Linked DNA regions of Homo sapiens. The protein of the gene in region 4 interacts with the protein of the main gene of each other region in a pairwise test. Each region holds a gene or a part of one and is shown on either strand. Other genes may lie near its edges.

Region 1 (7,025 bases), on a different chromosome or scaffold from region 4:
AGATCACGCTATTGCACTCCAGCCTGGGTAACAAGAGTGAAACTCTGTCTCAAAATTAGCCGGGCCAGGTGGCATGCACCTGTAATCCCAGCTACTGGGGAGGCTGAGGCATAAGAATTCCTTGAACCCGGGAGAAGGAGGTTGCAGTGAGCTGAGATTACACCACTGCACTCCAGCCTGGGCGACAGAATGAGACTCTGTCTCAAGAAAAAGAAAGAAGTTCAGCCCAGCGCAGTGGCTCACACCTGTAATCCCAGCACTTTGGGAGGCTGAGGTGTATTGGGGGAAATTCAGCCAGATATCGGGCGAAATTCACCCCTGATATTTCACGTAGGTTCTTTTCTGTATTACCTAAGTGTCAGCTGGTCTGAGAAATAAAGGGACAGAGTACAAAAGGGAGAAATTTTAAAGCTGGGTGTCCGGGGGAGACATCATATGTCGGCAGGTTCCGTGATGCCCCCTGAGCCATAAAACCAGCAAGTTTTGATTAGTGATTTTCAAAAGGGGAGGGAGTGTACCAATAGGATGTGGGTCACAGAGACCACGTGCTTCACAAGGTAATAGAATATCACAAGGCAAATGGAGGCAGGGCCAGATCACAGGACCATAGGACCGGGGTGAAATTAAAATTGCTAATGAAGTTTCGGGCACGCATTGTCATTGATAACATCTTATCAAGAGACAGGGTTTGAGAGCAGACAACCAGTCTGACCAAAATTTATTAGGCGGGAATTTCCTCGTCCTAATAAGCCTGGGAGCGCTATGGGAGACTGGGGCTTATTTCATCCCTACAGCTTCGACCATAAAAGATGGCCGCCCCCCAGAAGCAGCCATTTTAGAGGCCTACCCTCAGGGACGCATTCTCTTTCTCAAGGATGTCCCTTGCTGAGAAAAAGAATTCAGCAACATTTCTCCCATTTGCTTTTGAAAGAAGAGAAATATGGCTCTGTTCCACCCGGCTCACCGGCAGTCAGAGTTTAAGATTATCTCTCTTGTTCCCTGAACATTGCTGTTATCCTGTTCTTTCAAGGTGCCCAGATTTCATATTGTTCAAACACACATGCTCTACAATTTGTGCAGTTAACGCAATCATCACAGGGTCCTGAGGCGACATACAGCCTCCTCAGCTTACGAAGATGATGGGATTAAGAGATTAAAGATAGGCATAGGAAATCACAAGGGTATTGGTTGGAGAAGTGATAAGTGTCCATGAAATCTTCACAATTTATGTTCAGAGATTGCAGTAAAGACAGGCGTAAGAAATTACAAAAGTATTAATTTGGGAAACTAATAAATGTCCATGAAATCTTCACAATCCACGTTCTTCTGCAATGGCTTCAGCTGGTCCCTCCGTTTGGGGTCCCTGACTTCCCGCAACAGAGGTGGGAGGATCACGAGGTCAGGAGATCAAGACCATCCTGGCCAACGTGGTGAAACCCTGTCTACTAAAATTACAAAAATTAGCTGGGCGTGGTGGCGCCTGCCTGTAATCCCCCCTACTCGGGAACCTGAGGCAGGAGAATCACTTGAACCCAGGAGGCAGAGGTTGCAGTGAGCCGAGATCACGCCACTGCACTCCAGCCTAGGGACAGAGCTAGACTCCATCTCAAAAAAAAAAAAAAAAAGAAGAAAGAAAGAAAGAAGTTCATGATTTGCACAGAGGTCACGGGGTCCCTAATGATGTGAAGCATGGTCTATGTGACTCCAGATGCTGGCTCTGATGAAAGAGGGCAGCAGGGCTCTGGGCAGTTTAGGGCCGAGGCTCCAGGCCCAGACCCACTAGATCATTCTGCCTGAGGGCGAAGGCTGGCTTCCTGCCTTTCCTACTGAGGGGCATCTGAGTCGCAGCCTCTATCCTCTCTCTGCCTCAACCCAAGGAGACATAGGGGAGGCCAGGGTGCCCACTCAGGGTGGGGAGGCCTGGGTTCCAGCCATACCTTTGCTCATATTTGCTGGGCAACCTTGGGCATATTGGGATTTTATCTGGGCCTCAGTTTCCTCATCTGTCAGTGGAGGAGAGTTGGAGTTGATGGAGTCCAAGGGGCCTCTTGCTCTCCCTTCGCCCTGAGATCCTGTGACCCAGGCCTGGGAGAAGGAAGTGGGCACACCAAGAGTGCTGGGCTGGGATTGATGACAGCCCACAGCCAGGGAAGATTGAAGTCAGAGTTCAGCCCTGCCCTGGCGTATTCAGAGCTGACACAGAGGCCCTATCTCTATCCTCCCTGGCTCCAAGGCAGGGTCAAAACCCAGTTCTATTTTTTGCCCTCAGGTTACATGAGAGCTAGAGGCTGAGCACAGGCATGAGCTCTGGGCATGAGTCTGCACTGGGAAACCTGACCTGTGGGCACCCCTGTGCAGGCCACAGGGCTGTGAAGGTCCTAACCTCAAGGCCCATGCTGCCCCTGCTGAGAAAGAGTCAGTGCTTCTCACACTGGGACCCAGGCAGCCCCAGCCTGCAGGAGGGGCAATGGCCGGCCAGGCCTCAGGCACTTGGGCATGGAGTGGCATGTGCCTGGCATCGGGCTGCATCTTGACTCCTGCCAGCTCCCTCCTTCCCTCCCTCCCTAGTCTTAACTCCTGACCCCTGGGAGGTTGAGTCCTTGCTCTGGGCTCCTGCGGTATCCTCTGCTCCCCCTATCATGGTTCCAAATGCCATGTATGATCACCACCTGGTTACCTGTCTGCTGCCTGCCAGACAGATTTGGGGCAATTCTATGTTCCTGGAACCTAGCCCTGGGGCCTTGCAGAGGATACATAATTTGTAAATTATAATTTTTAAATTTTATTTTATTATTTTTTTTTTTGAGACAATCTCTCTCTGTCGCCCAGGCTGGAATGCAGCAGTGCAATCTCAGCTCATTGCAACCTCTGCCTCCTGGTTTCAAGCAATTCTTGTGCCTCAGCCTCCTGAGTAGCTGGGACTACAGGCTCATGCCACCGTCCTGGCTAATTTTTAATTTTTTTTTTTTTTTTTTTTTTTTTTTAGAAACAGGCTCACTATGTTGCCCAGGCTGGTCTCAAACCCCTGGCCTCAAGTGATCTTCCCTCCGGGCCTCCCAAAGTGCTGGAATTACAGGTGTGAGCCAACATGCCGACAGATTTACTGATGGCTCTGACAGGCGAGCTGATCTCATAGACTGGTTGGGCTGCCTGATTCAGGAGGGAGTTTAGGGGGCTAGAGGCCCCACTAACAGAGATAGGAGCCCTGCAGAGATGGGGAGGAACAGACTTGAGCCAGGGCCTGAGATAGGCTTTTTTTGCTTGTTTGTTTGTTTGTTTATGAGAGGGTCTTGCTCTGTCATCCAGGCTGGAGTGCAGTGGCTCACTGCGGCCTCAATTTCCCAGGCTCGGGCAATCCTCCCACCTCAGCCTCCCGAGTAGCTAGGACTATAGGCGTGCCTCCATGCCCAGCTAATTTTTGTATTTTTTGTAGAAATGGGGTTTCATCATGTTGCCCAGGCTGGTCTCCAACTCCTAGACTCAAGTGATTTACCCACCTCGGCCTAAAGTGCTGGGATTACGGGCATGAGCCACCACACCCAGCCTGAGATAGGTTTTGAACAAAAGGTTTCTACTGCAGGAGGCTCCAGGAGAGGCACCAGGGCCAGATTCAGACGTGAGTGTACGTGGCTGATGCCAGCTCCATTCCTGAGAGCAGAGTTTGTGGGAGCAGAGGGCAAGTATCCAGAAAGAAGGCTGGGCATGGTGGCTCACGCCTGTAATCCCAGCACTTTGGGAAGCCAAGGCAGGCAGCTCACTTGAGGTCAGGAGTTCGAGACCAGCCTGGCCAGCATGGTGAATCCCCGTCTCTACTAAAAATACAAAAAAAATTAGCTGGGCATGCTGGTGCATGCCTGTCATCCCAGCTACTCGGGAGGCTGAGGTAGGAGAATCTCTTGAACCAGGGAGGCGGAGGTTGCAGTGAGCCGAGATATCACACCATTGCACTCTAGCCTGGGCAACATCTCAAAAAAAAAAAAAAAAAAGGCCAGGCACGGTGGTTCACACCTGTAATCCCAGCACTTTGGGAGGCCAAGGTGGGTGGATCATGAGGTCAGGAGATTGAGACCATCCTGGCTAACACAGTGAAACCCCGTCTCTACTAAAAAATACAAAAAAATAGCCAGGTGTGGTGGTGGGCACCTGTAGTCCCAGCTAGTCGGGAGGCTGAGGCAGGAGAATGGCGTGAACCCGGGAGGCGGAGCTTGCAGTGAGCCCAGATAGCGCTACTACACTCCAGCCTGGGCGACAGAGTGAGACTCCGTCTCAAAAAAAAAAAAAAAAAAGTATCCAGAAAGAGGAGAGCCCAGGCAGCTGTTGGCAGGGCCAGCGACTTCCCTCCTTCTTGGGCCAGTTGTAGGCCCAGGGAGCCTGCACAAGGAGAGGGGTTATGCCATCCTCCTACCCACAGAAAGGGTGGGAAGTGGGGCGCCAGCCTGCTGAGCTTGCTCTCAGCTGGACTCCCCCGCCCGTCCGCATCACAGAGCAGGCGGACTCAACCCCTCTGAGCTCTCAGGCTGATGGGGGAGATGCACTCAGATATAGAGATCATGATGGCAGAAAAGAAGTTCTAGAGTCAAAGTGGTCACACGTGTTGGGGAGCGGTTGCTTCTTCCTGGGGAGCGCTGAGAAGGCTATCTAGGGGAAGAGACATGCAATGATGATGACAATAATGTAACCATGAGAGCAAACATTTGTTGGGGCCTCCCTAGGTGCCCACACCATGCCCAGCTCTTCATACTGAAGGAGGAGGAAAGGGTGATCTGGGAATGGGAAACAGGCCGTGCCAGGGCACAGGGTGTCAGCCAGCAGGAGCAGGGTGTGGGGATCATGCCAGCTGCCGGGGTGAGCCGGCATCAAGGACATCACACAGGGCATCAGGCCCTGTGTTCAGCACCTCACATGTGAGGGGGCTGTTGCTACCCGAGCCACACGACTTAAGGAGACTGAGGCGTGGAGAGAGGGAGACAGTATCACACAGCCCGTGAAAGAGCAAAAGGGCCAAGCCAATAGCAAGCAGACAGGGTTTAGAGAAGGGTCAGCTGTTGTCTGCATGTGGCAGAAACTTGGGCATGTTCCAATAGAAGGAGAGGTGGCAATGAGGCAGGACAAACAGGCTGACATTTTGGGGTCCCCAGGTAGAAGCCAGTCACCGCCTCTGACAGCGAATGGCTGCCCTTTCCCTGGGCTGCAGGGAGGGGAGGTGGAGGATTGGGTGGGATGTACAATAGGTGTGAGGAGATGGGTGGGAAGTTTAGGACCTTCCTGCCTGGCTGCCTTGCAGAGGGTGAAATTTACCAAAGGTGAAGTTCACCTGAAAACCCAACCGCCTTCTTGTGATGGGACGTTTAATGTGCAAGCCACAGGTAGCTCATAACACTGTTAACTTTCGAGCCTGCGAGCAGGAGGCATTCTGATTATCTGTTCATTTCTAGAAACGCTTGAGCCAGAGGGACTGTTTGTTGCCTAGAGAACAAAGCTAAAACATCGGAATGAAATTGAGAGAGAAATAAAATTTCCTATTCTAAGCATAGCCTATGAGTAAGCATCTCTGTGGCTTTTTGGAAAGTGTGTGTCAGAAAATGCATAGAGGCTCACAGAGGCCTGGGAGGGGACCTGTGTCGACTACTCATCTCTCTCCACTAACTTGGCAAAGGCCCCATGCCATCATTGCCCTCATGCAAATAATGTCATTTCAGCCAGGCGCAATGGCTCACACCTGTAATCCCAGCACTTTGGGAGGCCAAGCTGAGCAGATTGCTTGAGTCTAGGAGTTTGAGACCAGCCTGGGTGAACCAGATGACGAAACCCCATCTCTACAAAAAATACAAAAATTTTCAGGGGTGATGGTGCATGCCTGTAGCCCCAGCTACTTGGGAGGCTGAGAAGGGAGGATCGCTTGAGCTCGGAAGGCAGTAAACTGACATCGTACCACTACACTCCAGCCTGGGCAAGAGAACCAGACCCTGTCTCAAATAATAATAATAATGTCATTTCGCCTGGGCAAGAGAACCAGACCCTGTCTCAAATAATAATAATAATGTCATTTCGCCTGGGCACCCCTTTGTGAATTGGCTGGTGGTGGCATGTGTACACGTAGGTACACACAGATACACAGTCACACATAGGCAAAGCAGCAAGATCCCCTCCTGCCTTACAAAGTGAAAAGGTTTCCTCTTAGTCCTGGATTCATCTTGACAAGCCACAGTATTAGCAGGAAAAAAAAAAGATGCTGATTATCAGTTATAAACAGTGAGTGAGAGCCAAGATCCCACAATGACCTTTTGTCCCCTTGTCACTCCAGTGGTCATAAGTGAATGAGGCAATGAATGGGTCACACTTTTGACCCAATTTATTATTTTCTTTTATAAACTCTTCTTTTTTAATGCAAAGGCCCCCATGTGGCTAGTAAGTGGCAGAGCTGGGACCCTCTGCTGGCCTGCCCTTTCATGGTGGCTGGAACTGCAGTGTGGGAGTGATAGGGGCTGAGGCGGGAAAGGTGGTTGGGGCCAGTTGATGCAGAGTCTTCGAAGCTGGGTGAAGAACCCTGGGCTGGGTGCACTGGCTCAACGCCTGTAATCCCAGCACTTTGGGAGGCCGAGGTGGGAGGATCACCTGAGGTCAGGAGTTCGAGACCAGCCTGGCCAACATGGCGAAACCCCGTCTCTACTAAAAATACAAAAATTAGCCAGTTGTGGTGGCGCATGCCTGTGATCCCAGCTACTTGGGAGACTGAGGCAGGAGAATCACTTGAACCTGGGAGGCAGAAGTTGCAGCAAGCCGAGATCATTCCACTGCATTCCAGCCTGGGCAACAGAGCAAGACTCTGTCTCCAAAAAAAAAAAAAAAAAAAAAAAGAACCTAGGACCTTCAGGGCCAGGGCAGCCCCTGAAGATTTATTTTTATTTTTTAGAGACAGGGTCTTGCTCTGGTCATTGAGGTGGAGTGTAGTAGCATCATCATAGCTCACTGTAGCCTTCCTCTGGGCTCAAGTGATCCTCCTGCCTCAGCCTCTCAAAGTGCTG
Region 2 (7,025 bases), on a different chromosome or scaffold from region 4:
TCGTGTGCAAGCTACAGGCAAGGAGTCACAAGGAAAGGAGCAAATTGACAGCGAGTCAGTGAAGGAAACAGGGGAGCTTCCAATGCCCAGAACCTGCACACAGTCCTGCAGCCTCTGTCTCCCTGCCTTGCTGCCCCGCTTCAAAGCCAGCTTCTGCTGCCAAAGGACTCTTGGGGTTGAAATGCTTGTTGCACAGTTACACATCAGCTGACAGTCCTTCTCTGATTTAATGAACTTCATCTATGAAAAATACCCTCAACAGGCCGGGTGCGGTGGCTCAGGCCTGTAATCCCAGCACTTTGGGAGGCCAAGGCGGGTGGATCCCCTGAGGTCAGGAGTTTGAGACCAGCATGGCCAACATGGTGAAACCCTGTCTCTACTAAAAATACCAAAATTAGCCGGGAGTTGTGGTGGACACCTGTAATCCCAGCTACTCAGGAGTCTGAGGCAGGAGAATCACTTGAACCCGGGAGACAGAGGTTGCAGTGAGCCGAGATTGTGCCACTGCACTCCAGCCTGGGTGACAGAGTGAGACTCCATCTCAAAACAAAACAAAACAAAACAAAAACCCTCAACAGAATGTCAAAAAAAAAAAAAGAAGAAAGAAAGAAGAAAAGAAAAGAAAGAAGAAACCTGGGAAATACCATCATCTTTCTGCTTTTGATAATAACAATAACTAGCATTTATTGAGCATTTACTCTGTATCAGACACTCCTCTAAGTACTCTCTGTATATTATCTCATTTAATTCTCACAAAAATTCATGAGCTAGGAATGATAATTATTCCCATTTACTAGACAAAGAAGCTAAGGCATAAATTGGACACAGTTATACTTAGTATGGGGCAGAGTCACAATTTGAACCTGGCTGGGGTGACCCTGGAGCCCCCAGCAGGCCGCTCCCTGTTAAGGTTTCCAAGCGCACTCTTGGGCTGGTAGAACAGCCAGCAAGACGAGGGCAGGGGGAGGGATGGTGTCAGAGAGGCATCTCCCTGAAGAATCTCAGAGGACACTAAGTGTTGGGCAACATTTGGTTTGGTTTCGTGTCTTTCGTGGTTCACTTGGAGGCTTTAATCCCCCACTTTACATAGCCCTCTCCACGCTGTTTCTGTTCATTTGACAAGTATCTACTGAGCCGACACTTTGAGGTCCGTGGGTGATTCTGAGGAGAACTAGACACAGTGCCCATCCTGGGAGATGCATAATTAGGTGGGACAGGGGTGAAAATCAATCCAACAAACCAGAATACCAGGCAGAGAGCGCCCTCGTGGAGGTGCAGAGGCTCTGAGGAAGGCCTCACAGCAACAAGGACAGGCAGGTGTTCCCCTGCAGGATGAGGGTTCACATGGGCTGGGGAGAGAAGAGGAGGGACCGCCCACAGAGGGGACCATGGGCACAGCACTCTTACTTCATGATTGTGTGGCCTTAGAAGGCTCAGAATGACAACCCCAGCTGCTTTGCGTTCCCGCAGCTCCAGGTCCCTTCTCCAGCCACCCAGCCCCAAGATGGTGATGCTGCTGCTGCTGCTTTCCGCACTGGCTGGCCTCTTCGGTGCGGCAGAGGGACAAGCATTTCATCTTGGGAAGTGCCCCAATCCTCCGGTGCAGGAGAATTTTGACGTGAATAAGGTAAAAGGCGAACCTCCCGTTTGTTTTGCTGCCTCCGCTGTGAATAAGCGTTCTACAAGGTTCAATGTAATTATGCTGCTTTAATTTCCACTGCACACCTTGGGACAAGTATTTATCTTATTTGGGGTTTCCCCAAAGCAGACATCTGCTGAGATAAAGACTGCAGGCAGAGAGGTTTGGGATGATCCCGGGACGCACGAGAGCAGGTGGGAAGGTGAGTCGGAGACAGCACAGAAGCAATAAAGGGTGCGTTCCTGAGCTGTCGCCCTGGGCCGTCAGGGTCAGTCACACTGGGCACCCTCTGAGGACACGTGGAGCATGCCCCTCCGATTGTCCCACAGCTGCTGCCAGCAGGTCATGGGAGCATCCGTGGCTCTAGCTGAGCCCCCTGGCAGAGGAGAGACACAGGGTCTCAGGTGGGAGGCTGGCAGTGTCTGGGAATTGCCTACCGTGGCTGCGGTGAACTCAGAGGTGGGCTGAGGGGAACAGGACCAGGGAACCATAGTAGCTGCTACAGAGCTATTATCCTTGTTCTACAGATGCAGCATCGGAATCTCCCTCCCCAGCTCACGCAGCTGGTAAATGCAAGTAGGATTCAAAACCAGGCTTCTCAGCAGTGCAGGGCACCCAAAGGTCACTCAAACAGGGCTCAGGAAAGCCCAAAATTCTCCAGGGGGCTTTCTTGGTATCTGCACCAAAATGTCATCAATACAACGAGCTCCTCCATAGATGGTCTTTCTTCCTGGGGTTTAGCGGGAGGGGAAGGAAGAGGGCGGCAGAAAGAGGCAGCTATTGGAGGACAGGACTCACAGGCTCCCACTGTTGCTACTCAAGCCTGGAATCTCACCCTTAAGACTTCCTCTCCTTAGGAGAAGGTTTGGATCTCTTTTAAGAATGGCAACAGTAACATCGAAGTTGTTATCATACACTCGCACCTCAAGGTGAATGAGTGTTGGGACCTCTGAGGGGACGCTGGGTGGGAGAAGGAGCACCATCCATGGGATCAGGAGATACAGGTGTGGTAGGAAGAGGCCATAGAGTACACTAACGTCTACACTGACTTGCTCCACTTACAGGCTGATCCCTTTATTCAGGTAACTCTGATAGACCACAGAGAGGCTTTAAAGAAAACATCCAAGGAATCTGAGTTATACTTTCGCTTTTGGATACAAATCCCAAAGCACTTTGGAAATGATAACTGATCTGTATTTATAGAAGTCCTTTGAGAATTAAAGCAGGATTTAAAAAATAGCAGCTTTATTGAGATATAATTTGTATAGCACGTAATTCACTTGTTTAAAGTAGCTTTTCACTTTCCATTGTTGTTAGTATCATCACAGAGTTACGCAACCATCACCACCACCATCGATTTAGAACATTTCACTGTTCCGAAAAGGAACCTCATACCCATTCACGGAGTCTCCATCTCCCCTCCAACCCTTCCAGCCCCAGGCAACCACTAATCTACTTTCTGTCTCCGAATTTGCCTATTCTGCATATTTGATAAAAATGAAATCATACTATATGTGGTCTTTTGTGACTGGTTTACTGAACGTTTTCAAGGTTCATCCACGTTGTAGCATGTATCAATACTATATCCCCTTTTATTGCCAAATAATATTCTTGTAGGAAATCGTTATAGGAAATCAATTGACTGTATATGTGAGAGTTTATTTTTGCACTCTCAGTTCTATTGATCTATATGTCTATACTTATGCCAGTACCACACAGTGTTGATTACTATAGCTTTGTAGTAATCAAAGCCTTGAGGTAAGCTTTGAAATAAGAACACATGTGTCCTCCAACTTTGTTCTTCTGGTTATTCCGTGTCCCTTACATTTTTATATGAATTTTAGGATCAGCGTGTCAATTTCTGCAAATAATCCAATTGGAATTTGATACAGATTGCATTAAATCTGAAGATCAATTTGGGGAGTACTGCCATCTTAACAATATTAAGTCTTCTAACTTGTCAACATAGTGTATCTTTCCATTGAATTAGGTCATCTTTAATTTCTTTCAACAATACTTTGTAGTTTTCAGAGTATAAGTTTTATGTTTCTTTGGTTAAATTTATTCCCAAATATTTTATTCTTTTGATGTTATTGTAAATGGAATTTTCTTCTTTTTCTTTTCTTTTCTTTTTTTTTTTGAGACGGAGTCTCACTTTGTCACCCAGGGTGGAGTGCAGCATCACCATCTTGGCTCACTGCAACCTCCGCCTCCCGGGTTCAAGCAATTCTCCTGCCTCAGCCTCCCAAGTAGCTGGGACTACAGGTACACGCCACCACACCCAGCAAAGTTTTTTTGTATTTTAGTAAAGACGGGGTTTCACCATGTTGCCCAGGCTGGTCTCGAACTCCTGAGCTCAGGCAATCCATCCGCCTCGGCCTCCCATAGTGCTAGGATTACAGGTGTGAGCAAGCCACCGTGCCCGGCCTTTTAAATGGAATTTTCTTAATTTCATCTGCAAATTGTTCATTGCAAGTAGAGAAATATGTTTATATATGTATATATTTTTGTGTGTGTGTGACAGAGTCTTGCTCTGTCACCCAGGCTGGAGTGTAGTGGCACCATCTCAGCTCACTGCAACCTCTGCCTCCCAGGTTCAAGAGATTATCCTGCCTCAGCCTCCCGAGTAGCTGGTATTACAGTTGCGTGCCACCATGCCCGGCTAATTTTTAAATTTTTTATAGAGATGGGGCCTCGCCATGTTGGCTATGCTGGTCTTGAACTCCTGACCTCAAGTGATCCACCCGCCTCGGCCTCCCAAAGTCCTGGGATTACAGGCATGAGCCACTGCGTCTGGCTGAGAAATATATTTGATTTTTGAATATTAATCTTGTATCTTGTAACCTTGCTTAACTCATTAGATCCAATAGTTTTTGGTTTTGTCTCTGTTTTAGATTTCTTAGGATATTTTATATGTCATCTGCAAACAGATAGAGTTTTACCTCTTCTTTTCTAGGATTATTTTTCAATACTGACCAGAGATCTGAAAAGATTAAGAAGCCTTTGCAAAAATAATATGAGATCATAAGGAAGCTCTGAGTTTCCTCTTTTCTGAAAAATCATGCTTCCTTGGTTTTTACTATGGGGCACTAAACTCACTTTAACAGAAATAGAACAGATTTGAATGCACCATAGAAAATGGAGCTTCTTCCGAGAATGTCTATGAAACCAGTTAACCTCTAACCTTATTCTTTGGTACTTTAAATGAATGTTAAGTTCAGTGGCTTTAATTGAAAGCTGTGCTTTAATAAGTGAGTAGAACTTTATGGTCATGAATGTGGCATACATTTGAGCGGAAAGCCGTGGCTGAAGCAATACTCACCTGTGTGCAGCATCCTCTCTTTTCAAGTTCTGACTCTGAAGGTGAGCGCATCTCTTTTTGTTTTTAAATTTCTAGAATAGGCCAGGCGCGGTGGCTCACGCCTGTAATCCCAGCACTTTGGGAGGCCGAGGCAGGGGGATCACTAGGTCAGGAGATTGAGACCATCCTGGCCAACATGGTGAAACCCCTTCTCCAGTAAAAATACAAAAATTAGCCGGGCATGGTGGCACGTGCCTGTAATCCCAGCTACTCGGGAGGCTGAAGCAGGAGAATCACTTGCACCCGGGAGGCAGAGGTTGCAGTGAGCCCAGATTGCACTACTGCACTCCACTCTGGTGACATAGTGAGACTCCATCTCAAAAAAACAAAATTCTAATTAGTATTTTAACTAGATAAATATATTTACATTGTTCAAAATCCTAAAGGTGTAAAAGAATACACCACATAAAGTTTCCCTCCCACCTCTGTACCTCAGTTTCCCTCCCCAGTAGCAACTAGTAAAAACCATGTATTATGTAATTTTACAGATAATATATACATATACAAGCAAATACTTAATAACTGTGGTAAGCAGAAGAGTGGCTTCCAAAGGTGTCCACGCCCTAACCTTGTGAATGTTACTTTGCATGGGAAAAGGGCTTTTGCAAATGTGATCGAAGTTATGAGCCTTGAGATGGCCAGATTAGCCTTGATTATCCAGGGGAACTCAATCTAATCACATAAATCCTTAAAAGCAGAGAATCTTTCCCAGCTGTGATAAGAGAGAGAGGTTTGATGATGGCATAAGAGTCAGAGAGATGCAATGTGAGAAGGATCTGACTTCCTTTTGCTGGCTTTGAAAATAGAGGAAGCCTCAAGCCAAGGAATGTAGGCGGCCTGTAGAACTTGGAAAAGGCAAGGAAACTGATCCTCCCCTAGAGCTCCCAGAGGGAAACACAGCCAACACTTTGAGTTCAGCCCAGTGAGACCTGTCAGACTTCTGACTTACACAACTGCAAGATAATAAATCTGTGCTGTTTGAAGCTTGTGCTAATTTATTATAGCAGCAACAGAAAACCAACGTAATAAACATTTTCTCCATTTTTACACAAAAGGTGCCTTAATAGATACACTATTTTGTACCTGACTCTTTTGTCATTAAATATTAGAAATCACTGCATACCACTCTTTTGAAAGAGGAAGTAAAATTCCATTGTCTGGATATGCCATCGTTTACTCACCCAGCCCCCTACTAATGCTCACATAGGCTGTTTCCTATCTTGTATTATTACAAACGGTACTGTAATGAATAACTTTACACATACATCATTTCTTATATCAGGAGGATGCATTCCCAGAAGTGAAATTGCTGGGCCAAAGAGTATAATATGTATTTTTAGCTTTGCTAGATATTGCCAAACTGCCCTCCGCAGAGGTTGTAAACTGGTATGGTCTCCCTGCAACGCGTGCCAGGCAGCCTAGGAGGGCCTGGTTCCCTCGACCTTCCCCACACAGTGGCAGCTTCCTTTAAAGCTAACTGTATACACCTGAAGTCTGGACTGAGCGCAGGCCCCTAGAGAAAGCATGATACAGACCTTTCAAATCCCCACCACCTCTCCAAAGCCTTGATGACTAAATCCCTCCTCAGGGTCAGATGAGGAAAGTTCCGTGCGCTCTGGAGTCCTAGCTCCCCACAGCGAACACATCTGACTTTGCACAGGATTCAAAGATGACTTGTAGAATTGTGCACTGTTTCAGATGAAAGGTATTTCCCATCATCCCCTTTTTTTACAGAGTCTAGAATGTCACAGCGATTTTGGCTGAAGTGGGCCCTGAGAAGAGCCCTTTACTCAGCATTCACCCCCTGCCCGCACATCCCATCCTAGTCACAGATTCTCATTGCAATCAATCTCTTGCCCAGTTGCCACTGGGAACAATGAGGCCCATTTTGTCTGGCTTCCCCAGGACAGGGCTCTGCGTCTGCACGACAATGGGGAAGAAGTTGCAGGTCCCCAGAGAACCACAGGGTTTTGCTCTGCTTGTTGTCTCTGCAGTATCTCGGAAGATGGTACGAAATTGAGAAGA
Region 3 (7,463 bases), on a different chromosome or scaffold from region 4:
ACAGGAGAAACTGTCCATTTTTAGGCTTCAGTTCAACAAAGTATGGATGGCCGTGTAGAAATACGGTTGGACAAAAGAGCCTGATCTAATGCTGATAGACTGAGTGGGGAACCCAGCGAGGCCTGTCTGTCAAGATTCTTTTCGGCCTCTCTGCGCAGCATTCCTTCCTTCCTCATATGGCGCAGGACTCTCTCTGGATGGGGGTCTTCTGACCTACAATCAGACAAAGGTCAAATAATTTCCTATGGCCAATTTTACACAGAAAGAAAGAGGAAAGTTAGAGTAATATTTTTAGGTTTTAGGGCAGGCTTTTGGTGAAGAGGGATTGTAGTTTTTATAGCTAGCCTTGGGGGAGAATAAGGGACCAGAGACAGGAGGGCAGGAGAAGGTCAGAGAGAAATGTTTGCTTCCGAGGGAGGCCTTCATTTCGGGGTATTGTTTTCTGAGACCCTATGAGGCACACTCCCAAGGCCAACAGAGGGAAGGAAAATGGAAGCGAGGCAGGCAAGGAGGGAAGCAAGTACAAGGTGTCACGTGGCTGAGCTGGCCACAGCTTCACCAAAGACTGGGCTGGCTGCTTAGTCATGTGAGATGTTTCCAGCAGGCCATAAAGAACAGAACATGATTCAAAGTCCTTCATCTAGAGAAGAAAAAAAAAAAGAAATGTGTCTGCTGGCTCCTTCCTGTCTCCCGCCTCCCATACTGTTCATTCCACCTTGACTTCAGGTGGTGCAGGTGCAGGGGCAGCAAGGTCACCTGCCCCATTGGGTGGTACTTCAGCTGAGTCTGGAGATGGTGGGAGGTGCCAGGGCCTCCATGGTCCAGTTGGGTTGGACAAGGGTGGGGCAGCTGCTGTCTCCACCTCAGTGAACACAATGGGGCCAGGCTGGTGCCCAGACTCACGCCAGGAAAGGCCAAGTCAGCCACCGGCAGTAGGGGATGAATTCATGACTGTGGCCCAGTAGCATCCAGGATCTCCATGAGCAAGAAGCCAAGGGCCTGGAGAGAGGCAAGGCTGAGCGAATCCGAGGCAGCGCATTCACCGGGGCTGATACACCAGAGACTTACAACTTTGAGGAGCATTGCAGAGCCTGTTCCCCCTTTTAGACATTCAGATCACAGTAGCAAATTAAGGGGTCCGAGTCGTCCCACCGTAAAGAAAGCGAATTAACTTTAGATGAGGACCATCAAGTTCATGGTGCTTGGAATGCTGCCTGACCCTAAGTCTTTCATTTTGTGTGTGTGGACTGAATTTCCCAACTTATTCATATGACATCCTCCGGAACTAGAGTTATGTGGAACTTGCTTTAGGACAGTGCTCAAAAACCCTCACAACCTCTGCCCATTTTCACTTCTGGGAGTTTGGTAGGTTTTCTAAGGCTAACTCAGTTCCTAACTTTGAATTTCAAAGAATCAGATTTTGCTCTCATTTCCAGTCCTTTCTCAAGTTCTGAAGCATTTTGTTTTAGTTTTTAAAACACGGTGTAATACACACACACACACCCTTAAAAGTGCACAAAACTCATCGTAGAGTTTAATAACCTATTGTAAAATGAAACCTTATGTTACTACCACTCAGGTGAAAAAAAAAAAAGAACATTGCCAGCCCTCAGAAGCCCTCCATGTGCCCCTCTACCACATCACAGCTCCTCTTTCTGATTGGGGCAGCGGAAAGAGGAGCGGTCAATTTTTTTGTTTTTTTGACAATCACATACTTGTTTTTCTTTATGGTTTGGTCTCCTAAAGTATCCTCCCATAGAAAACTGAAGGGATTTGAGTCCAGAAGGAGAAATTTGAGGCCAGAAAGAGAGAGGTTTTCATCACCTTGAAATCACAAGAATCAGTATTATAACGTGTGTATGTTCTGTTACTTCTCCAGGCTACTGATCATGTAAGCAGCAAGCATTTCAGCCCCGTATCTTGTCACTTATGGAAGAGAAGAGAGAGCAGTTGAGACTTTGGGTAATCAGTTAAAGATTAAATTCCAGGAAGATACCTGTTAATTGCAACTAAGGGGATCTTTCCTTTGCCATAGGAAGGGCTCTTCCTGTACTTGCAAACTAGAACCCTTAAGATGGTATGAAGGGTTCTTGATCAACATGCTTCCTTTAAAATCATGCTGCAAGAGAGGACAGCTGGCTTCAAGGGGGTTCTTTCAATGAATCTTGAATACAGCTCCATGGGCTGCTACATCAGAATTGCCAGGAAAGGTTTATTTTTCCCCAAGTCTTTAATTCTGAAACTTTTTTTTTTTTTTTTTTTAGACAGAGTTTCACTCTTGATTGCCCACGCTGGAGTGCAATGGCATGATCTCGGCTCACTGCAACCTCTACCTCCCGGGTTCAAGTGATTCTCCTGCCTCAGAATTCTGAGTAGCTGGGATTACAGGCGCCTGCCACCATGCCTGGCTAATTTTCTTATTTTTAGTAGAGACGAGGTTTTGCCATGTTGACCAGGCTGGTCTCGAACTCTTGACCTCAGGTGATCCGCCTGCCTCAGCCTCCCAAAGTGCTGGGATTATAGGCGTGAGCCGCCGCACCCAGCCAACATTTTTTAAATACTGAAAAGTAGAGGGAATAGTTATAGTGTACCCCATTTACCCATCACTCAGTTTCAACAGCTGGTGACATATTTATTTCTTCTATACCAGTACCGTACTCTCCCCACTGGGATTATTTTAAGGCAAAACCCAGATGACATTTTATCCCTAAATACTTTAGATAAAGGTGTTCTTTGAAAAAAATCATAACCTCAGGACCAGCCTGGCCAACATGGTGAAACCCTGTCTGTACTAAAAATACAAAAATTAGCTTGGCATGGTCGTGGGCACCTGTAATCCCAGCTACTCAGGAAGCTGAGGCAGGAGAATCACTTGAATCCGGGAAGCAGAGATTGCAGTGAGCTGAGATTGCAGTCGAGCCTGGGCGACAGAGACAGAAATGAAACTCTGTCTCAAAAACAAACAAACAAAAAAACCACTATACATAAAAATGAACAATGATGCCACAATAGCACCAGAGAATTTTATAAATACAGATTCCCAGGCCCTGCCCCAGACCTACTGAATCCTGGAAATATTCAGGCTCCACACCCAGAGATTCTGGTTCGGTTGGTCTGATGCAGGGACCTGTAACCTGCGTTGTAACACCTTCTCCAGGTAATGCTGAGCCTGCTGGTGCTCAGAGTAGACAGACCTGGAGAAAACCAGGGTGTCTGAGGTTTTCCAGAAGAAAACCAGAGTCCAGAGAAGCAGAGAGGCACTCAGTGAGGACCCAAGCAGAGCGGGTGCACCTCACATCCTCACTCCTGGCACCCCGTCTCCTACAAGATGAGAGACTGAAAGAGCCCCTTCCTGTCCCCAGTGGTGTGGGCAAGAGGCCTGCACCTCTGACTCTTGGCTCTGTGAAAGGCCATACCCACCAAGCCTATGGTCCTAGCGACAAAGGGTGCTGGGGAGACGAATTGACCAGACAGGGAGGTCTCCAGCAGCTTCTTTCTACACAGAGGGCACCTGTCAGAGGCCAGCGTGGGGGCCACAGGCTCCCCAATCCCCAAGAACCGCCAGGGAAGGAGGCTGCTTCAAGTGGGTGGGGCACCAAGCTGGCCAGGAAGGACAGGGCTTCTCCCAGCGGTACCAACACGGTGGCACCTCCGGCCTGCATCTCCCAGGCTTGCTTGTCAGGCTTCCTGGGGCTCCCAGGAGCCGCTGCGGGGGAGGGGAGAAGGGGTGGCAGCAGTGGCAGTGGTCGTCTCTGCTCCGATGGTGACTGCCGATGACACTGTTCTCTGTGCGGGTGGAGACAAAGCCGGCCACTCCAGATTCTCCTGCGCGCAGGAGAGGAGGAGCTGGCGCTGCTTCAGTGGCGAGGATGGGTCGATCAGTCCCAGCCGGTCCTAGGGAGAGACACTGCCCCAGCCTGAGGGCGGCGCAGCCCACCCCACCCCAGGACCCTCCTAGCAGGAGGACAGGAACGCAAGCCGACCTCGGGGGGTCTCCGGCCTGAGAGGGGAACATGATCAAGCCCAGGGCAGCCGCCAGTCGGAGGGGGCAGACGCGGCCCCAGTAGCCTCTGGAGACCCTCTTCCGAGGCAAGGAGCCACATTCCTGCCGTCGGGACCACCAAAGCGGATTTCTACAAACTAAAGTCGAGAACTTTTCGGCGGCGAGGCGGCGCACCCCGCGCGGGAGAGGGGGCGCAGGCGTCACCCCGTCCTCACTCAGCAACACCCGGCGCCGCGCCGGGCGAAGGCTGGCAAACTTCTCGCGGCCGGCAGGTGGGCTCCGCGGGCCCCATGGGCGCAGGCACAGGTGTGCGGGGCCACAGCCGGGCCTTTTGCAGCCGGCGACCGCCCCCCCTTCCCCGCGGGCTTTTGCACACGACGCGCCGACGGCAGCTTCACACGGGTTGGCGAGGGCCGGATAAAGCCGGCGGCCGCGGGGCGCAGCGGCTGACCCGAGACACGGGAGCGCTTGGCACGCGGAGCCAGAGCCGGAGCTGCAGCCGCAGCGGGAGCCGGGGGAGCTCAGGGGCCGCAGGAGCCGGGCCGGAGTGAGCGCACCTCGCGGGGCCCTCGGGGCAGGTGGGTGAGCGCCACCCGGAGTCCCGCGCGCAACTTTCAGGGCGCACTCGGCGGGGCGGCTGCGCGGCTGCCGGGACTCGGCGCGGGACTGCATGGAGGCCAAGGAGAAGCAGCATCTGTTGGACGCCAGGCCGGCAATCCGGTAAGGCGAGAGCCTGGGGACGGGCGGGAATTTTGGCGGCAGCCGACGCACCTCCGCATTTGCCATCCTAGCAGTGGTTGGTTTTGGCTGCGGCTTGAGCTGGGACCATGCAGGAGGGGTGGGGTGAGGTGAGGGAACGAAGATAATGGGCTGTGGCCCAAGGACCGTCTCTCCCTTGGGGCGCAGCCCAGATTCTGACCCCTGCCCGCGGGGGGCCTGGGGCCGGGGGATTGGCGGTTCCCATGCCTGGAGTCCCGCCCCGCCCAGCACTTTGCCCCAGGCAGCCCCGCCCCGGGGAGGCCCTGTGTCCCAAGTGCGCTGGAGGGGGCCTGCTGTTCTCCCAGAGCCTGCGCTCTGTTCCTTCCCCGCGCTCCACTGGACAGCACGCCCCTTGGCCGGTTCCCAGGGTCTTCACCTCCTCTGGCCTCTGAAGGGCCCCGGGCCCCAGGACTCCCATTCCCCTATCATCCCCGTCTGAATACAGGCTTCTCACCTCTGGTTTGTCGAGCTCGGAGCGTCCTTAGCTATTTTTCCCAGTGGACACAAGGCCTCACAGAGAAATGGGACTAGAGTCGGCCCTCCTTACCTCATCTCAGAGCTGAGCGTTCCCTCTCTTCCCCTCTGGCCAGGTCATACACGGGATCTCTGTGGCAGGAAGGGGCTGGCTGGATTCCTCTGCCCCGACCTGGCCTGGACTTGCAGGCCATTGAGCTGGCTGCCCAGAGCAACCATCACTGCCATGCTCAGAAGGGTCCTGACAGTCACTGTGACCCCAAGAAGGGGAAGGCCCAGCGCCAGCTGTATGTAGCCTCTGCCATCTGCCTGTTGTTCATGATCGGAGAAGTCGTTGGTAAGCACTTTTGGGCTAATTAAATGAAGTTGGTGCATGGATAGACTGGATGTTCCCAGCAATACTGACACTAAAAGCCCCAATTACTGAACACACACTACAGTAAGCCTTTATATACACATTATCTGATGCAGGTCTAACAACAACCTGTGTTCTCACATGGGTGACGTTATTCTCCTTACTTTACAGATGATGAAACTGAGGCATGTTCAGGTGAAGTAACTTGCCAAAGATCACGCACAACTCGTAGCTAAGGGAAGGCCTGAATTCCTAGAAGGGAAGAGCATTTACTGAGTATCTGCTATGTTTTCCAGTCCCTATTTGAACTTGATGTGCACATTCACCCTCTAAGTAGATATTGGTGGCCCATTTCACAGAGAGTGGAAGTTGAGGCTCAGAGAGAGTAGGTCACTTGTCACGGTGGTACAGCTCATGGGTAGAGAGATCTTGAGCCCAGAATGTCCTCTTCCAGAGCCTGTGGTCTCCCTGCTGCACACACAGTCTTGGGAGCCAGCTCTCTGGGGGAGCTGATAAGGACCCTCCACCCTGCAGGTGGGTACCTGGCACACAGCTTGGCTGTCATGACTGACGCAGCACACCTGCTCACTGACTTTGCCAGCATGCTCATCAGCCTCTTCTCCCTCTGGATGTCCTCCCGGCCAGCCACCAAGACCATGAACTTTGGCTGGCAGAGAGCTGGTGAGGATCGCGGTTTGGCTGGAGATGGGGTTGAGAGAGAGGGTGGGTTAGAACAGGGGTTCTTAGGTGGCTGTAATGGGTGGATCCCCCCTTCCTCCCCTGAGTGAGGCCAGGAGGGTGATCTGGATGGGGGAAGAGGATGTCAACCATGGCCTCTGTCCTCTGGGAAATCCTAGTCTGATGGGGGAGCCCTGGTCCCAGTCATCCAGGAGCTCTCAGTCTGCAGGGAAGCAAAGTTGACCTTCCTAAGAAGTGCAGTAGCCAAGCTTCAAGAACAAATGACAATGGCATTAACACTGCACATAACTCTGTGGATCAGCTCTGGGGGGAGGGGAAGGCCAGCAAAGGCTGCTGGAAGATATAGGCTTTAACCTCTCTTCCGTTCACCCTGGACTGCATCGTCACCTTCCTCTTTGTGGGAGATGGCCCAGCCTGTCTTCCCCAGAAGCCTCAGTTTACTAGCTGAACAAAAGGCACATACTTTAATAAGTCAGCTTCTTTACATGTACAACCAAAAAGGTGGACTCAGATGATGACTTATTAGTTCCTTCTAGCTCTTACATTCCTAGATATATGAGGGGTGGGGTAAGGGGCAGCCATACCGGCCATACCTTCAGCAGAGCCCAGTGGGACCCAGGCCCTGACTTTGTGTGGGAGGTGGGTGGGGAGGATCCTGAAGGAAGGGGGAAGACTCCTTAGCTCCAGGCCCATGCCAAGGTGGGTGTTGGGGTTGGGTTCTTCCTCAGAGATCTTGGGAGCCCTGGTCTCTGTACTGTCCATCTGGGTCGTGACGGGGGTACTGGTGTACCTGGCTGTGGAGCGGCTGATCTCTGGGGACTATGAAATTGACGGGGGGACCATGCTGATCACGTCGGGCTGCGCTGTGGCTGTGAACATCATGTGAGTGGGGCCCCAGTTTCCCTCGTCTCCCCTCCTCCTCCCGCCTCTCACACCCACACCTATGTCTGCTTTGCGGAAAGAGACTGTGCCACTTTCCAGCATACGCTACAGGGACAGAACTTCCCTAATGGTCTGAGCTCTGGCACCTGGAACACCTGGGTCCTACCTTAGGCCTAGGCCAAGAACACTGGGAGCTGTAAATCGGAGTCTTCATCCACTCTACCCACTCCCTGATACATGTCAGGGACTAGCCTTGGTGGCTTCATACCTGAAGTGGGGCGGGAAGAGGCC
Region 4 (7,114 bases):
TCTTTACTGGGGAGAGGATGCACTCACACAGATACTCACTGTGCTTTGCATTTACTTCTGTTCCTTATCACAGCCTGTTTGCATTTGTCCTGCTCAGACAGCCTCATCTGACTGGGCCAGGTGACCACAGGTGACACACAGATGGAGAACAGCAGAGTGGCTTAGGGGCATGGGTGTCAGAGTCAACTGACACCAGCTTCTGGTCCCACTTCAATCGCCCACCAGCTATGGGATCTCGGGTAGGAGATGTCACCTCTCTGGGCCACTCCTTCATCTGAAACTGGGGATAATGCTGGTACCTCTCACAGGGCTATTGAGAGATAGAAGGAGATGATGTGTCAGGCCAAGTCCTTTAGACAGGGCAGCTGTTATTTTCATCCCTGCAAGCCAGATCCTCTCCCAGCATCCAGGCATCCTGGTGTTTGGCCCTTTTCCTCCAGAGTCTGGTGTTTTCTCCTTCCATCCACCAGTCCCACCCGGCCCAAGCACACCACCAGAACAAAACAGGAGAAGAAGGAAACACTGTTCTCTTTTGCTTGCTTCCACATTTATTTGGGTAATTTTTCTTCTGTCATTGTTCATAAATGTCTCTGATGATCCACATTTATTGAGCAATGGGAACTTTCTGGAAAAGGCACTGTGGGAGCAGAATGCGGCCTCATCCCTGGAGCCCTGTCTCCCCCGCTCCTGACTCGCTGGCTGGGAGCAGCTCTGAGGATGGGGTTCTCCCCTCTCCTGCCCCTGCCACTCACTGGGCAGCCCCCTCAGACCTGGGCACTGCTCTTAGCTCCTCTGCCACCCTCAAGAAAACACAGGAGCTGCCTGCTGCTATGAGGACCTCATTGTTCTCCAGAGCAGCCTCTCACCCTGACCCCTTCCCAGAGCCCAATCCATAGTGTGTGGGTGGATGGGGATGGAGGTGAGATCGAGAGCTGGGCTTTAGCGCGCATACCCTTAGGGAGGCTAGATGTCTACTCTGCCCCCAAGCCCCATCGGGCCCCAGCTCGCCACTCCAAGTCCCTCCTGGCGTGAGCGAGGAAGCGCCCTGAGGATGACACGCCAGCTACACCCTCCTCCCCCGGAGGACCTAGTTTTCAGCACAGGCCACCTGGCCACCAGTTCCACAGCCCTGTGAGTGTTCACTGGTCTTTCTTTCAGCTGGTCGGTCCGCTCTCTGCTCCTCCCCTCCCTTCTGCTCCTTCAGCTCCATGCTGCTCTCCTGCTGCCACTGGCCCCAGAGCCCACACAACCTCCTCAGCAGCTCATGAAAGTCGGCTTGGAACCCGGAGGAGGAGAAGTAGTAGACAAAGGGGTCGACACAGGAGTTCAGGGTGCTGAGAAGCGTCACGTAGATCCTCCACACCGGGCTTTCACCGCAGATATAGCCCACGACATGGGACACGTTGTAGGGCCCAAAGCAGACAAGGAAGTTGAGCAGCGTGGCCGCCACCAGCCCCGCCACCCTCCTCTGCCGGCGGTGGCTGCCCCCTCTGCCGAGGATCCACACCAGGCGGCTGTAGCAGTAGCTGGTGATGATCAGCGGGACCACAAAGAGGACCACAGCCATCTCCAGCCGCACGGGCAGGAGGATGGCTAGCTGGTCCTTCCAGAACTCCAGGTAGCAGGTCCCATTGGTGCCCTGGCTGTGGGAGATGTCCCCTGAGAATTCTATGACGTAGACCACGCTGCAGTGAGCAGAGGCCAACAGCCAGCAGGCCACACTCACCAGACCTGCCTGCCCCAGCCTCGGCCGGGTCTTGTACCACAGTGGGTGGGCCACACTCAGGAAGCGTTCAATGCTCACAGCTGCCAGGAAGAGGGCGGTGAGATAGATGGTGGTGAAGAAGATGAATCCAGAGAGTGGGCAGAGGATGAAGGGCAGGGGCCAGTGCATGCCATTGGCTGCCTCCACCATGCGGAAAGGCAGGAACAGCAGCAGGAGCAGGTCCGAGGCGGTCAGGTTGAGCAGGAGCACGTCCACGGCCACCGGGCGGCACCGCAGCTTGCCCACGAAGACCACCAGGGCCAGCAGGTTGAGGGGGAGCCCCACCAGGAAAGTGAGAAGGTACACCGAGAAGACGAACCAGTGATTGCCGGAGAAGTAGGACTGGTCGGGGCCTGTATCCATGGTGGTGGCCACTGGTGAGAGAGAGTAACATGGAGTTGGTAGTGGGGGCCCTAACGGCCTCTGGCCAGCAGCATCTCCCCTAAAAGGGCACGAGGTCACTACGCCCACCCCTCTTGTCTCTGGGTGCCTTCCAGGCGGGGTCAGCCTGCCTGTCTTCCTGAGCATGCCCTGTCCCCTGTCCCTTCCCCAGCAGAGAAGCACCAAGGTGCTCCTCCACCCAGCCCCTCGGGCCCAGGCTCACCTGCTTCTTTGAGACCCCAAATGCTCTGCCGCACAGCACCTTGCTGTCTCTCCAGACCTAGTGCAGTTGGCTATTTATCCGGCAGAACTGATAAAGACCTGGCCGTGCCCATGACATCACTCACTGTTGAGCAGTGGCACAAAGATGCCTTGAGCTCCGTTGCCAGGGCTGGTCAGTATGCAAAAAGGGGAACAAATTCCACAACTGCGTGCCTCCCTCCTTGCGCAGCCTCAGCTGGGATGCTCCAAACAGGCCCCAGCTGACGTCTTCTTCCCCTCCCCTCTCTTCCACTTGAATTTTGTCTGATTCTCTAGAATGGCACTTATCCAGTTTGCCTTTTAAGGGCACAAAGCATGAGCCAGTGACAGACTGGACTCCGTGAGGTCTGTTCCTTCCTGACTTTGTGATGTGGGGGAAGAGATGTGTCTCTTCTTCCTCCCCTACAGAACAGGGATTGTCATAGTACCTGTACCATATTTCAAAGCATGAACACATGCAGATTAAAACATATATACAGGTAGATTAAAATGTTAATAATATAGGTCAATTGCTTTTTGAAAATATTTATTTTAGATTCGGGAGCACATGTGCAGGTTTGTTACATGGGTATATTGCATAATACTGAGGTTTGGGCTTCTATTGAACCCATTACCAAAATTGTGAACATAGTACCCAATAGGCAGTTTTCCCACCCTTGTCCTCCGCCCTCCCTCCCCCACTTTGGAGTCCCCACTGTCTATGGTTTCCATCTTTAATGTTTGCGTGTACCCATTGTTTACCTCCCACTTAAAAGTGAGAACATACAGCATTTGATTTTCTGTTTCTGTGTTAATTCACTTAGGATCATTCACTTAGGCCTCCAGCTGCATTTATGTTGCAGCAAAGGACATGATTTCATTCTTTTTTATAGCTGCATAGTATTTCGTGATGTGTATGTACCATTTTTTCTTTATCTAGTCCACCATTGATGGGCACCTAAGTTGATTCCATCACTTTGCCATTGTGAATAGTGCTGTGACAAACATACACATGCAGGTGTCTTTTTGGTAGAATGATTCCATTTTATGAAAAATGACATTGATAATTTGGTAGGAATTGGGTGGAATCTGTAGATTGCTTTGAGCAGTATGGACATTTTAATGATATTGATTCTTCTAATCCATGAACATGGAATGTTTTTCATTTATTTGTGTTTTTTAGTTCTCCTTGTAGAGATCTTTCACTTTCACTTCCTTGGTTAGATGTATTCCTAGGTATTTTATTTTTGTGTGTGGCTATTGTAATTGGGATTCTGTTCTTTATTTGGCTCACAGCTTGACAATTGTTGGTATATAGTAATGCTACTGATTTTTATACACTGATTTTGCATCCTGAAACTGCCAGTCATTTATCAGGTCTAGGAGTATTTTGGAGGAATCTGTAGGGTTTTCTAGGTATAGAATCATATCATCAGTGAACAGAGATAATTTGACTTCCCCTTTCTATTTGGATGCCTTTTATTCCTTTTTCTTGCCTGATTGCTCTGGCTAGGACTTCCACTACTATGTTGAATAGGAGTAGTGGGAGTAGGCATCCCTGTCTTTTTCCATTTCTTAGGGGGAATGCTTCCAACGTTTGCCCATTCAGTATGATGTTGGCTGTGAGTTTGTCCTGGATGGCTCTTATTATTTTGAGGTGTGTTCCTTCGATGTTTAGTTTTTTGAGGGTTTTTATCATGAAGGGATGTTGGATTTTATTATATGTTTTTTTCTGCATCTATTGAGATGATCATATAATTTTTGTTTTTAATTTTATGTGGTGAGTCACATTTATTGATTTGCATATATTGAAACATCTTTGCATCCCAGGAATAAAGCCCACTTGATCATGCTGAATTATGATTTTGTCATGCTGCTGGATTTGGTTTGCTAGTATTTTATTGAGGATTTTTGGATCTATGTTCATCGGGCTATTGGCCTACAGTTTTCTTTTTTCACTGTGTCCTGCCAGATTACGATATCAGAATCAGACTGTTTTTGTAGAATGAGTAGGGAATCTCTCCTCCTCAATTTTCTGGTAAAGTTTCAGTAGGATTGGTACCATCTCTTCTTTGCAGGTCTGGTAGAGTTTGGCTGTGAATCCATCTGGTCAAGGGCTTTTTAAAGGTGGTAGATATTTTATTACTGATTCAATTTTGTAACTCATTATTGGTCTGCTCAGAGTTTCAATTTCTTTCTGGTTCAATCTTGGTTGTATGTTTCCAGAAATTTATTTGTTTCCTCTAGATTTTCTGATTCATGTGAATATAGATGTTCATCGCAGTCTCTGAGGATCTTTTGTATTTCTGTGGAATTAGTTGTAATCTTGTCTGTGTTATTTCTGATTGTGCTTTTTTGGAGGTTTTTTTTTTTCCTTTGTTAATCTAGCTTGCAGCCTATAAATCTTGTTTATTCTTTCAAAGAACCAATTTTTCATTTCATTGATCCTTTGAATGGCTTATTTGTCACAATTTCGTTTAGCTCTACTCTGATTTTAGTTATTTCTTTTCTTCTGCTAGCTTTGGATTTAGTTTGCTCTTGTTTTTCTAGTTCCTTCAGGTGTAATGTTAGGTTATTAATTTGAGATCTTTCTAACTTCTTGATGTAGGCATTTAGTGATATAAAATTTCCTCTTAAAACTGCTTTTGCTGTATCCCAGAGGTTTTGGTATGTTGTGCCTCTATTTTCAGTTGTTTCAAAGAAGTTTTTGACTTCTGCCTTAATTTTTTGACTTCTTCCTTAATGACTTACCCCAAAGTCATTCAGGAAATAGTTGTTTAGTTTCCATGTATTTGTGTGATTTTGAGAATTCTATTTTTATTCCACTGTGGTCTGAGAAGAAGGTTGGTATAATTTTCATTTCTTTAAATTTATGGAGATTTGCTTCATGACTAAGCATTGGGTCAATCTTAGAGTATCTTCTGTGTGCAGATGAGAAGAACGTATATTTTGTGGTTGTTGGGTAGAGTATTCTGTAGATGTCTATTAGGTCCATTTGATCATGTGTCCAATTTAAGTCCAGAATTTCTTTGTTAGTTTTCTGCCTCAATGATCTGTCTAATGCTGTCAATGGGCTGTTGAAGAACCCCACTATTATTGTGTGGCTGTCCATCTCTTTTCTTAGGTATCGTAGTAATTGTTTTATAAATCTAGGTACTCCAGCGTTGGGTGTTTATATATATAGGATGTTAAATCTTCTTGTTTAATCGAACCCTTTATCATTAGGAAGTGCCCTTATTTGTGCTTTTTTACTGTTGTTGGTTTAAAGTCTGTTTTATCTCATACAACAATAGCAACCCTTTGTTTTCCATTTGCATGAGAGATCTTTCTCCAACCCTTTGAGGGTTTGGGTATCATTATATGTGAGATGGGTCTCTTTAAGACAGCAGAAGGTTGGGTCTCATATTTTTATCCAATTTTCCACACTATGTCTTTTAAGTGGAGTGTATAGGCCATTTACATTCAAGGTTAATATGTGAGGTTTTGTCCCTGTTGTGATTTATCTTCGTGTTGTTAGTTAATTACTTTGTAGTCTTGGTTGGGTAGTTGCTTTATAGGGTCTGTGGGCTTTGTACTTATGTGTGCTTTTGTGGTAGCAAGTATCATTCTTTTGTTTTCATGCTTACAGCTTCTTTGAGCATTTCTTGTTGGACCAGTCTGGTGGTGATGAATTCTCTTACCATTTGATTGTCTAGGAAAGATTTTATTTCTCCTTTGTGACACTTAGTTTGGTAGGATATGAAATTCTTGGCTGGCATTTTTTCTTTAAGAAGCCTAGAAGGCTGGGCGTGGTGGCTCACACCTGTAATCCCAGTACTTTGGGAGGCTGAGGTGGGTGGATCACAAGGTCAGGAGTTTGAGACCAGCCTGGCCAATATGGTGAAACCCCGTCTCTACTAAAAATACAAAAAAATTAGCCGGGCATGGTGGCACATGCCTGTAATCCCAGCTACTTGGGAGGCTGAGGCAGGAGAATTGCATGAACCCGGGAGGCAGAGTTTGCCATGAGCCAAGATCGCACCACTGCACTCCAGCCTGGGCAACAGAGTAAGACTCCATCAAAAAAAAGAAGCCAAAAATAGGCACCCAATCTCTTCTAAATTGTAAGACTTCTGCTAAGAAATCCACTGTTATTCTGAGTGGACTTCCTTTATAGGTAATTTGGCTCTTTTTTCTAGCTTCCTTAAAGATATTTTTCTTTCATGCAGTCTCATGACTATGTGCCTTGGGGATGGTCATTTTGTATAGTACCTCTCAGGCAGTCCCTGAATTTCTTATATCTGCATGTTGACCTCTTTAGCAAGATTAGGGACATTTTCCTGAATTATACGTTAAAATGCATTTTCCAAGTTGCTTATTTTTTCTTCTTCTCTGTCAGGAATGCCAGTGGGTCATAGTTTGGTCATTTCCCATAATCCTATACTTCTCAAAGCCTTTGTTCATTTCTTAAAATTATTTTTCTTTATTTTTGTGTGACTAGGTTAATTTAAAAAATTCATTCTGCCTCTGAAATTCTTCTACTTGGTCTAGTCTATTGTTGAGGTGTCCAACAGTATTTTGAAATTCCTGTAGTAAATTTTTCAATTCCAGAAGTTCTGCTTGATTCTTTTTGTGTTTTGGTTCTTTCTCTCTATATATAGTTTTTTTCCCCCCCTATATATATATCTTTCACATCCTGGCTCATTTTTACGGCTTCTTAGTATTGCATTTCAACTTTCTCTTGGGTCT

Evidence for each region.
Region 1: the proteins of GPR42 (region 4) and SLC35E4 interact in binary tests that used the Homo sapiens proteins (3 or more experiments, as listed by UniProt).
Region 2: the proteins of GPR42 (region 4) and APOD interact in binary tests that used the Homo sapiens proteins (3 or more experiments, as listed by UniProt).
Region 3: the proteins of GPR42 (region 4) and SLC30A2 interact in binary tests that used the Homo sapiens proteins (3 or more experiments, as listed by UniProt).

What each region holds. Positions count from the first base shown.
Region 1 is NC_000022.11:30,638,762-30,645,786, forward strand, and holds part of SLC35E4 (solute carrier family 35 member E4), read left to right. Parts: intron 1-7,025. UniProt on the Homo sapiens protein: Putative transporter.
Region 2 is NC_000003.12:195,573,941-195,580,965, reverse strand, and holds part of APOD (apolipoprotein D precursor), read left to right. Parts: intron 1-1,470; 5' UTR 1,471-1,504; coding exon 1,505-1,627; intron 1,628-6,994; coding exon 6,995-7,025. UniProt on the Homo sapiens protein: APOD occurs in the macromolecular complex with lecithin-cholesterol acyltransferase. It is probably involved in the transport and binding of bilin. Appears to be able to transport a variety of ligands in a number of different contexts.
Region 3 is NC_000001.11:26,043,107-26,050,569, reverse strand, and holds the start of SLC30A2 (proton-coupled zinc antiporter SLC30A2), read left to right. Parts: upstream 1-4,451; 5' UTR 4,452-4,673; coding exon 4,674-4,723; intron 4,724-5,352; coding exon 5,353-5,573; intron 5,574-6,125; coding exon 6,126-6,272; intron 6,273-7,018; coding exon 7,019-7,172; intron 7,173-7,463.
Region 4 is NC_000019.10:35,366,374-35,373,487, reverse strand, and holds GPR42 (G-protein coupled receptor 42), read right to left. Parts: upstream 2,421-7,114; 5' UTR 2,370-2,420; intron 2,140-2,369; 5' UTR 2,129-2,139; coding exon 1,088-2,128; 3' UTR 526-1,087; downstream 1-525. UniProt on the Homo sapiens protein: G protein-coupled receptor that is activated by short chain fatty acids (SCFAs), such as propionate. Hence may play a role in the regulation of whole-body energy homeostasis and/or in intestinal immunity.